2 separate regions of the Homo sapiens genome follow, and region 1 is linked to region 2. Evidence: fine-mapped expression QTL. Tissue or cell type: whole blood. Region 2 holds a variant in brackets; the other region holds the start of a gene. All regions are shown on one strand. Distances are between the middles of the regions.

Region 1 (5,291 bases), 38 kb after region 2:
ATCGCTGTGACTTAAAACTACTACTTCTGCAGCACAAAATTCTAACCATTATAATGCAATTTTTAAAGTGTCAGATAAAAAGAGAACACTTACTAATCCTCTGAATAAAAAGGACTAAATCTCCTATGCAAAGACAGGTTTCCAGTCCAAAGAAAGCTTGATTTCTTGCCTTTCAGAATTCTGGTTCAAGTACCCTAAGTTGATATAGCTGTTACTTATCTTTAAAAAAAAAAAAAAAGTCACCTTGTCCAATGACAAACTACACCATAAAGAACAGCGGCTCACCAAGCCAGAGTGCAGCAATCACGTCATTGAGACCTCATTAAGGCTAAACTATAAACAGACCTGGCATCTGCCAGTGTCCCCAGTGTTGAGCTGTAGCTGTAGATCAGAGTAACCTTCTTACGGGAATCACGAAATTCTAACCTTCCCCTTCAAGGGTTCCCTAGCTTAGCTGATTATCTGGAAGAGGAAAAGATTAGTACTACCTTTTTAAAAGGTGGGGGTTGGGGCGGTGAGCAGTTTGAAACAGAGGAGGTCACTGGAACTCATCCACAATATGAAATGCCACATCAAGAAGAACACGAACATAATCTTAATTATCTAAGCACCCATGATAACCAAAGATTCTTTCAACCACTTTTATTTCAAAGGATGAAGTAGAATCAGTGGAGCACAGGAGCAGAGAGAGGCAGGGACAAAACGACTTCCCTGTTATGACACAAATAATGACTGTTTTGTGCCTACAGTGACTGCTGTGGTAGACACTGCTAAACTATCCTAAGGGACTAAGTTATTCTATGTATGAAGGGTGTGGGGAACAGTGTTCCATTATCTCTAACACACTCATCTCTACTTTCCTGGAAAAAGAGGCACAATCAGGAGAGCAGGCAGGCCCAAAGTAGGCACAAAGTTACTGTCTGTGGCCTTGAACATAAGGACACCATCGTCTGTGTATCTGGAACATAAAAGAGGGCACCCCACGTGGAGGCCGGCGAAGAGCTGGGAATCCTGACAGGTTTGGAAAGAAACAAAGCCCCAGTCTGAAGCAAGCAAGCAAGCAAGGATGGATCCCCAGGCCAGCCATTTTACTGATACTATTTATATTTCCCTATCTTCTCGTGTCCTCCTTTAAAGTTGTTGGAATATCTTTTTTAAATGCTCACTTGCCTCAGCTATCAAGAGAGGAAGAAAGAGAAGGGATTTTTGTTTGTAAAAAACAAACCTGTTGTCCAGACATGTACAAGGGTAGAAGCAGAATAATCAACGTGGGAGAACCCCAAAGAAGTGCCCAATAGGGTTGAGGCCACTTAGTCAGCTGCCCTTTTTTACCAAGATTCTCTTTCCACTGATAAAAGTGTAGACACTCTCCCTGCACAATGATACTGATTCAACTGCATGGCAGGAGGAGAGTTGCACGGGATTACCAGACTGGTGTGTGCAAGCTGCAGTCATCCCAACACTCATGAGTAGGTTTCCATCACCTCCAGGCCCTCAAGCTGCACGAGGAAGACACCACGCTAAAGGGATACGTATTTACCACACCCACTGTAATCCACTTGTTGCGTCTCCAAGCAGCCTCACCTTTCATACACGCTGCGGACCACAGTAAAACCTAGCCATCTCCTCCTCCAAGACCTCCTGAAACTTTCCCCGTCGTTCCTGTGCCCACCTGCCTCCAGCCTCTCCGTCTGTGCAGAAACCAAATGGCCCCTGTGTGATAAACACAAAGCCACCCGCGGCTCTGTGTGGCAGAAGCGAAAAGAGCACTGGATGACCGTGGAGAGATCTGGGCTGCGTTCCCGGCACAGCCACGGCTTTGCTGCGCGTGCTTATGTCACGTACCTCCATTTACCCGCTTGCAAAAACGAAGGGGATGACTTACTTCGAAGGTCGCTGGCGGCTCCGCTGCGGGTTGAGCAGGGTGCCCCGAGCCACCCGCTGCACAGCCTCCCAGGTGGGCGTTTCTCTCAGACCCGCTTCGCCTGGGATGCCCGGGCCCTAGGGCGTTCCCACAGCCCGCTCCGGCCTGCCCAGGCGAGCGCGACCCACACCCACGGCCCGCGGGCGCAGCGCCCCCTGGCGGCCGCGGCCAGGGACGTAGCCCGCGTCCCTGCCCGCTCATCCCGATCCTACCTGCCTGTCTTCCAGCACACGACCCCGTCACCAGACCCCGGGCTCACAGGCCTAGGAGGCGGCGGCAGGAGACCAGGGGGAGGCCATACGCCGTTCCCCAAGTCTCCAGTGTCCCCCGAACTGCTCGCAGCCCTGGCCACATCCCGCCACGCCCCGAGGAAATGCAAAGGGGTGATCCCCGTGACAACCGAGCTGGAGGGCAGGGGTGCGGCAGCAGCCATCACCTACCTGCGCCCCTGCTCCAGGACAACCGCGCCAGCCGCTCAACCACGCTCCCGAGCATGAGCCCTGCAGCAAAACAAGCCTTTATAGCGGCATCGGCCGCCACACCGCGCAAGCGCGCTGCACAAAGCATTCCCAAGGCTGAAGGGAACTGTAGTCCTCCTTCCGAGTGCCCAGGGCTGCGGACGCGGCGAAGGACTACATTTCCCAGAAGCGCCGGTGACATCCCGGGGGCGGTGCGGGCTGCCCCTCTTCCCACCGAGCTCCCGGCTCTGTTCCATCCTTCCCCGTGCCTCTGCGAGACTGTCTGGAATCTTCTCAGGGGTCGTGTTCCCTGGGGGAGGCAGCCGGGAGGCTTAACCGTGGCCCTGTGTTCGCACACAGTGCTGTTCGTAGGCAGAGCAGTCCCACCCTGCGTGGCCGTGTAGCTGCCAGAAAAGATCGTGAAGGTCATCGTAGCCCGCGTCTAACCCGTTGAGAGTCGTCAGGCCGGCCAGCCCCAGTTCTTATCTGTTGTGGCAGATACGATTGCTTGCTCATGGTTCGACCCTGCAGTCTGCGCAGATACCGCCTTTCTCACTTTAACACCAACTGCCCATCAATGTCTCGCTGCCTGGTCTCTAGATAATAAAATGCCAGGATCACAGTCTTAGAAGTGGCAAGAGCCTTAGAAATGTTATGCTAACTCATCTTCTTCTTTTTATAAATGAAACTGAAGCTCCCAGAAAGATTGATCCCTTTATTTCTCTGTTTCATCGGTACCTTCAGCATCATTAAATAAAAGCCACTGTTGAGTTCTTCCCTACCTTGTATCCGATGCTTTACATACCATTCTTGTTTCCTTTAATCTCCATTACAGCCCTATGAGTAGGTATTATGAGTTTTTTTTTTTTTTTAAGGAGTCTGGCTCTGTTGCCCAGGCTGGAGTGCAATGGCGCGATCTCGGCTCACTGCAGCGTCCGCCTTCCGGGTTCAAGCAGTTCTCCTTGCCTCAGCCTCCCGAGTAGCTGGGATTACAGGCGTCCGCCACCACGCCCGGCTAATTTTCGTATTTTTTAAGTAGAGACAGGGTTTCGCCATATTGGCCAGGCTGGTCTCGAACTCCCGACCTCAGGTAATCCGCCCGCCTCGGCTTCCCAAAGTGCTGGGATTACAGGCGCGAGCCACCTCACCCCGCCGTATTTTTTTTTAATTCAAAGATTAAAAAAGAAGAAGAAGAAGAGGAAGAGGAAGAAGGAGAAGGTAAAGTGACTTGTCCATCTTTATAACAGCTAGCTAGTTAGCTAGTGTGAAGACACTACTGTATCGTAAAGCAGCATATTCTTGCGCACGGATTGATAGACCAATGCAATAGAATAAAGAGCCCCCAAACAGACTGGTGCATCCATGTAACTTGATCTGTGACAGAAAACCTTACGAATCCGTGGGGAAAGCAAGAAGAGTCAGTAAATAGTACTGGAACAATTGGTTATACATATGAAAAAACAATCAGGGATTACCGCTTCATACCACACAGAAAAAACCCATTTCAGGTAGATCAAACGCTTAAATGTGAAAGGGAAAACTTAAAAACTTTTAGAAGAAGATAGGAAATATCTTTATGAACTTGGGAGTAGGAAAGAACTTTTTAAACAAGAAACAAAGAATAAAGGAAGAAAGATTGATAATTTTTGCCATATTAAAAGATGGCATAAATTGAAAAGATAAACCACAAGTTATAACTGACAAAGTTTTTGAATAATAAATATTCAAAATAATTTCTAAGTTCAGTAAGAAACGGCAGATAACCCAATAGGAAAATAGGTAAATGACATGAACAGACAGCTCACAGAATAGGAAACTTGAGCAGCCACTCAAATATGAAAAGACACCCAATCTCATTCATAATCAGGGAAATTGATTTTTTTTTTTTTTTTTTTGAGACAGAGTCTTTCTCTGTCCCTCAGGTTGGAGTGCAGTGGTGCCACCTCAGCTCACTGCAACCTCCACCTCCAGAGTTCAAGTAATTCTCCTGCCTCAGCCTCTGGAGTAGCTGGGACTACAGACACCGGCCACCGCACCCAGCTGATTTTTGTATTTTTCGTAGAGATGGGGTTTCACCATATTGGCCAGGCTGGTCTTGAGCTCCTGACCTTGTGATCCATCCACCTAGGCCCCCCAAAGTGCTGGGATTACAGGCGTGAGCCAACACGCCTGGCCTGGAAATGTAAATTAAAATAGTAATGAGATACCACCTCACCAAAGATTCTAGTACCTTCCAACAATGCCTCAAACACTGTAACACCCAAAACTGCAGATCTGATATCATCATATTTTTTAAAAAGCTTCTAAATCCCGCTGAAATACTTCATATATGTTGATTATAGTTTGTTTTTTATTAAAAAAGAATAGATGAACACCAGACAGCCTTGGTGGCAGGCTTCAATACACTGTAGTACTGTCTTGGTCTGTCCAAGTATAGTCTGAGTGAAAGAATTATACTTACAAAATTACCCCCTCAAAATGTGTTTGTGTTGTGAACTGTTTAGAGGGGCGATACTTCCCAACCCTCAGGCAAGGGGGCTAGAGAATCTATGTTGCAGTGTAGAATTGTGTGTCTTTTCTTTTCTTTCTTTTCTTTTTTTTAGATCTCGGCTCACTGTAACCTCCACCTCCAGGGTTCAAGTGATTCTGATTCTCCTGCCTTAGCCTCCAGAGCAGCTGGGATCACAGGCATGTCCCACCACACCTGGCTAATTTTTGTATTTTTAGTAAAGACGGGGTTTCACCATATTGTCCAGGCTGGTCTCGAACTCCTGAGCTCAAGTGATCGGCCCACCTCAGCCTCCCAAAGTGCTGGGATTACAGGAGTGAGCTACCGCGCCCGGCCAGAATTGTGGGTATTTCTAAATAATATTTATGTTGTGTAATGTACTAAACATATTCATTAAATA
Region 2 (5,665 bases):
CTAATCTATGCAGTGGCAACATCAAGGAATTCCAGCCCACATGGCATCCCTTTTTTTGTTAAGTATTAACCACTATCAAATATCTATTTCTCTCCACCCTCCCAAATATACTCCCTTTTGTATCATGTATGTGTAGTATTCTGAAGGAACAAAGAACACAGCCAAGGTATGATCAACTAACCACCTGCAAGAAAAGAAGCTGAGACTTACTTAACTGCACTTCTCAACATGACCTAGTTTTATGACTATTTCCATGTAACTGCTTTCCCTGCATCGTGAGTAGCACCACAGGGCAGGAAAAAGAAAGTATCAAAAAGGATTCAGCATGTCAATCAATCAAAGTGACAGTAGCAAAGATCAAGGGGAAGATGCCCCACAGTGCTGGTCTTCTAGGTTTAAGCCACTTCAAGGCCCAGTGAGTTGCGACACATCCATGTCAGGCCCAGGTGGAAGGGGCTAGCTCTAAAGGGGAACTCTGCAATCCTGGGAGCCCAGATCATGGCCGTTCACAAAAGGTAAAAATTCACATTAATTAAAAAAGGTGACAAGTCTCATCCCTCAATTCAGTCTCCTCCACTGCCCCCTTTTTCTTACCAACTTGCCAAAAGGCCAAAGCCAAGCTTAAGCCCAGTGAGGCCAGCCTGGGTGGCCCCTTGAACAGAGCCAGCAGTTAGTTGTGTGGGGAGGGCTCCTGACACGGGGGCAGGGGAAGGAGCCACTTACCTTAAATCTGTCAACAGCCACTGAGGCTTCTGAGAGGGACTTTACTGAAAACGGTGTTACTTTCAAAGCAAAAGTCATGGAATTGAAGACTGTCACCACTGTGAAAGCCTGAAAATAGGAGAAGAGAAGAAACTGTGCCTAATGATGCTATGCAACTGAAGTAACCTGACACCATGAATTTCCTCTCAGGCGCTAGGAAGGCTGCAACTTCACGGTCAGCTGTTATTACAAGTCAATTACATTTTTTTTTTTTTGAGACGGAGTCTCGCTCTGTCGCCCAGGCTGGAGTGCAGTGACACGATCTTGGCTCACTGCAACTTCCACCTCCCAGGTTCAAGCAATTCTCCTGCCTCAGCCTCCCGAGTAGCTGGGATTACAGGCATGCACCACTATGCCCAGCTAATTTTTGTATTTTTAGTAGAGACAGGGTTTCACCATGTTGGCCAGGCTGGTCTCAAACTTCTGACCTCAAGTGATCCGCCCGCCTCGGCCTCCCAAAGTGCTGGGATTACAGGCGTGAGCCACCATGCCTGGCCACATTTTTTTTTAAGTAGAGTTTTTGAGACCTTCAATTAAAATTGTCAGTAAATATGAACCACAGGATGATCTGTAATTTCAGAATTAAACTCAAACTTATGTTGACTAAAAACAACTCATACACTATTTGTGCATAAGGGCTGGCTCCCCACTCTTCTGCTTCTCAGCTTAATCCCATGAATGAAAAAATACCTACTAATTCTTGGGGGAACCTCCAGGTCCAGTAAGGAGAGGACCACAGCATCATCTCCATATGTGGTATTTTTTTTTTGTTTGTTTGTTTGTTTTGTTTTGAGATGGAGTCTTGCTCTGTCCCCCAGGCTGGAGTGCAATGGCATGATCTTGGCTCACTGTAACCTCCACCACCTGGGTTCAAGTGATTTTCCTGCCTCAGCCTCCAGCAAATGTGGTATTTCTAAAATGTTCCCCATCCCTGAGGGTTCCCTGACCTGTGCTGCTGTCAGATCGAAGCCCAGGGTCATATGAACAGAGAAGGTCACCACGCTGGCAATCACCACCACAATGGGAGCCACACCCACAGTGATGCTCTGGAAGTACCCAGCTTTTTCCAATATCCGACGCTCCTCCTCGCGGATTTCTATGAATAAAAAGCAAGCCAATTTCAAAGCAAGTTAAAAGAAGCCTAGGGATGTTGTTCCTCCACCTCCAAACAAGACTCTGTAGGTCTCCAGCCACCCTTCAACACCTATGACTATCAACTCTACCACTAAAGCTGGTATAAAAGGCTGAGGTTTGAAATGGATCAAGTGACAGGAATGAATCTAACAGAAAGCAGTCACTATGTATGAACTCAATCATCATCTTCTATGATACCTTTTTCTGATTCTTCTTGTAAATTTCTTAGGTTGAGAAGGAATGAACACATTAATTGTATCTATAATTGGCAGTTGTGTTTGCTTACCTGGTTGTTGTTGACTTTTTGCCTAAGGAATTAATAGGAAAGACAACACAATGGCACTGGAGAATTAAAAAGGGAGGGACTAAGAGGCCAGGTGCGGTGGCTCATGCCTATAATCCCAGTACTTTGGGAGGCCCAAAGCAGGGGGAATCACCTGAGGTCAGGTGTTCGAGACCAGCCTGGCCAACACGGCAAAACCCCGTCCCTGCTAAAAATACAAAAATTAGCCGGGTGTGGTAGTACACGCCTATGATCCCAGCTACTTGGGAGGCTGAGGCCGGAGAATTGCCTGAACCTGGGAGGTGGAAGTTGCAGTGCACCGAGATTGCACCGCTGTATTCCAGACTGGGTGACAAAGCCAGGCCTTATCTCAAAAAAAAAAAAAAAAGGGGCAGTGGGGAGGGAACTAACATTTCCCAGAGTGCCTGCTGTATGTTGGCAGTGGGATAGAAGCTTCCATATAAAAATGCAGTAATGACAACCGGAAGAAGATAGGTGAAATACAATTTCTATAGGCAGAATGATTTTTCTTAAATATTTGCAAAATCAACCCCCATATTAGCAAAGCAACCATAGTGTACTGAAGACCGTGGAGCAGGAAGCAGAACAATAAGATACTTTTTTTTCAGACGAGGTCTCGCTCTGTTGCTCAGGCTGGAGTGCAGTGGCACAATCACGGCTCACCGCAGCCTCAACCTCCATGGCTCAAGTGATCCTCCCATCTTAGCCTCCCAAGTAGCTGGGACCACAGATGTGCACTACCATGCCCAGTTATGTTTTATTTTTTGTAGAGAGGAGGTCTCAGTACGTTGTCCAGGCTGGTCTTGAACTCCTGGGCTCTAGTGATCCTGTCTCTCCTTCCAAAGC[G/A]TGGAGACTAAAGGCATGAGCCACCTCGCCCGGCCAATACTTTTTTTTTTTTTAAGACGGGAGTCTCACTCTGTTGCCGAGGCTGGAGTGCAGTGGTGTGATCTCAGCTCACTGCAACCTCTGCCTCCTGGGTTCAAGTGATCCTCCTGCCTCGGCCTCTTGAGTAGCTAGGATTACAGGCTGTGCCACCACGCCTAGCTAATTTTTGTATTTTTAGTAGAGACGGGGTTTTGCCATTTTGGCCAGGCTGCTCTTGAACTCCTGACCTTAGGTGATCTACTCGCCTAGGCCTCCCAAAGTGCTGGGATTACAGGCATGTACCACTGTACCTGGCAAATACTTAATTCTTCTAAGAGGGTATACACTGACCTTAAAGGTATTACCACTGCCTAAGGCATTGGGAACTATCTTCACAGCTAGCTTGTAAGTCACATAAAAACACTGAACTCCTTACTTGAACATGTATTATACACCTTGGCCATGTCTATAATGAGTAAGAACACTCTTTTCAAATTAATACATACAGGTAAAGATAACCAGTCAGGGGCTGATGGATGAGGGAAATTTCAGAAAAAAGATCATAAAACTACAGAATCAGAGAGCCAGAAGGGACCAGTGGCAGCCATCCTGCCATCAACCTGCTGGCAGATGTCCATTCAGAATCCATTTGTTCCACTCTAGTAGAAACAAACTCACTGCTTAACAAGGCAGCCCCGTCCACTGCTGGGCACCTCTTGAGTGCTCATCTCCTCTGGATGCTTCTTAGCTTAACAGCCCTCATAAATCAAATGTAGATTCCAGAATTGGACATCATGTTCCTGAAGGTTACTCAATGAAAGGAAAACAACAGCTGCCTTGCTCTGAACACTGTTTTGTTTTTTTTTTTTTTTTTTGAGACAGTCTCGCTGCGACACCCAGGCTGGAGTGTAATGGTGTGATCTCAGCTCACTGCAACCTCCGCCTCTTGGGTTCAAGCGATTCTCCTGTCTCTGCCTCACGAATAGCTGGGATTACAGGCATGCACCACCACACCCAGCTTATTTTTGTATTTTTAGTACAGACGGGGTTTCACTATATTGGCCAGGCTGGTCTTGAACTCCTGAACTCAGGTGATCCACGTAACTCAGCCTCCCAAACTGCTGGGATTACAGGCGTGAGCCACTGGCGCCTGGCCTGAACACTGTATTTCTACTCCAACTATAATGCATTGACTGTTTCACAGCACTGGACTCAGCTCCTGATGAGGTTATGGTCCACCAACAGCCTCATCTCTTTTATTTAAATTAAGTATCTATGTGTTTGTTTTTAATTATCTACTACTTAAATTTCACCTGTTTCAAGGCACACTGGTTCAATTTGTGTTGAGATCTTTCTGAATGCCCCATCTGTGCCATTTCTCCTAGCTTTGTGGGCACTTACACGTTTGACAGAGCTAGGACCAGCATCCAGCCATCCTGACTCCCAGTTTACCTCAAGGGCCACAAACTATTTCCCGTGAAACCACAGAGTAGAGTGGGCAAAGGTGATGCTCTCAGTAGTAATTTGATATTGTCTTCTGTGAAAGCCTCATGACCAGGCTGGAAAATCATGGGCAGGATGAGAATATACACAGGGGGCTTCGAAACTGGATTATTCCTAACTAGCTGTGTTTTAACTGGGAAAAATCAACATTTTCCCAGGTCTCAATTTCCTCATCAGTGAGATGAGGTTATGGGTTCAAACCTCTAAGATCCCTTTTGAACACAAAGATTCTATGATATTATGTCCTACGATACTAGACACTAGTCCTAGTACGTAATGTGCTCAGAAAGCAAAGTGTGTGAATTATAAGACCCAAAGAATCCAAGGTCCTTCTACCACATGCACATACAAAATCTTTAAACTCACTTTGAACACTCTGAGAAAATGCTTTGACCCAGGCATACATTTTGATAAATTTAATGTAAGTAAGAACTTCATTCATCTTCTGGACACGTTCATCCGTGGCGGCCACGCATTTTCTCCTGAAATATGCTGTGAGCCGTGATGCAAACATCTGAAAGGAAAAGCGATGCCACGCCAAATTAAAGCTCATTCAAACTTGAGAACTACCTAATCTGCTTAAGGTCATTCTCAATAAAATGAGCATATAATCCTGCTTGCTAGGATGGGCCAAATGTTATGTAATCGTACTGTCTTTAATAAAAGTGACCTATTGAATTGTAATAAAACATTACTGAATTCTTATCTCTTTATAAGGCAATGAAGACAAGAAAGTATTTATTCTCAATAGTGACCACAGAGACTGAGTGCTTCCAAAGGGGAGGCAGGAGGGCCCTATCACTTAGCACCAACTCCAACGCAGTGACTCAAACACTCCTATGTCAAGTGGGACAGGGTTCACCAGCTGACCTTCTCATTCAGACTCTCTTTCATGCAAGTGACACCTTACCTCCTCTCAAGTCAAAATTCTGTCCCTATAGAGCAAGCACTATCGAGCTCTAGATTGAACCTGCTTTGAGGAAATTTCCAATCAGAGCTGTGAGACCTCAGCAATGCCTACTATAACCCAATGGAAGTAACTCATCTCCTAAGGAGAAGCTGCCAGGATTCAGCTGGGAGGCTTACTCACCATTGCTG

Evidence for each region. PIP is the estimated chance that this variant, and not a neighbour inherited with it, causes the effect.
Region 1: ABCC5 starts here. The variant in region 2 is fine-mapped to the expression of ABCC5 in whole blood (INTERVAL, PIP above 0.99).

The regions. Positions count from the first base shown.
Region 1 is chr3:184,015,466-184,020,756 of GRCh38, forward strand. ABCC5 (ATP binding cassette subfamily C member 5) reads right to left here and starts at 2,419. Exons shown (of 30, transcript NM_005688.4): 1 at 2,365-2,419. RefSeq lists a silencer at 1,987-2,156 and an enhancer at 2,637-2,816.
Region 2 is chr3:183,976,794-183,982,458 of GRCh38, forward strand. It overlaps ABCC5 (ATP binding cassette subfamily C member 5), which reads right to left. Exons shown (of 30, transcript NM_005688.4): 7 at 5,658-5,665; 8 at 4,934-5,081; 9 at 1,710-1,858; 10 at 724-831. Among named protein-coding and RNA genes, the nearest start is that of ABCC5-AS1, 27 kb to the right of the region's middle. The variant G/A (reference allele first, on the strand shown) is at 3,047.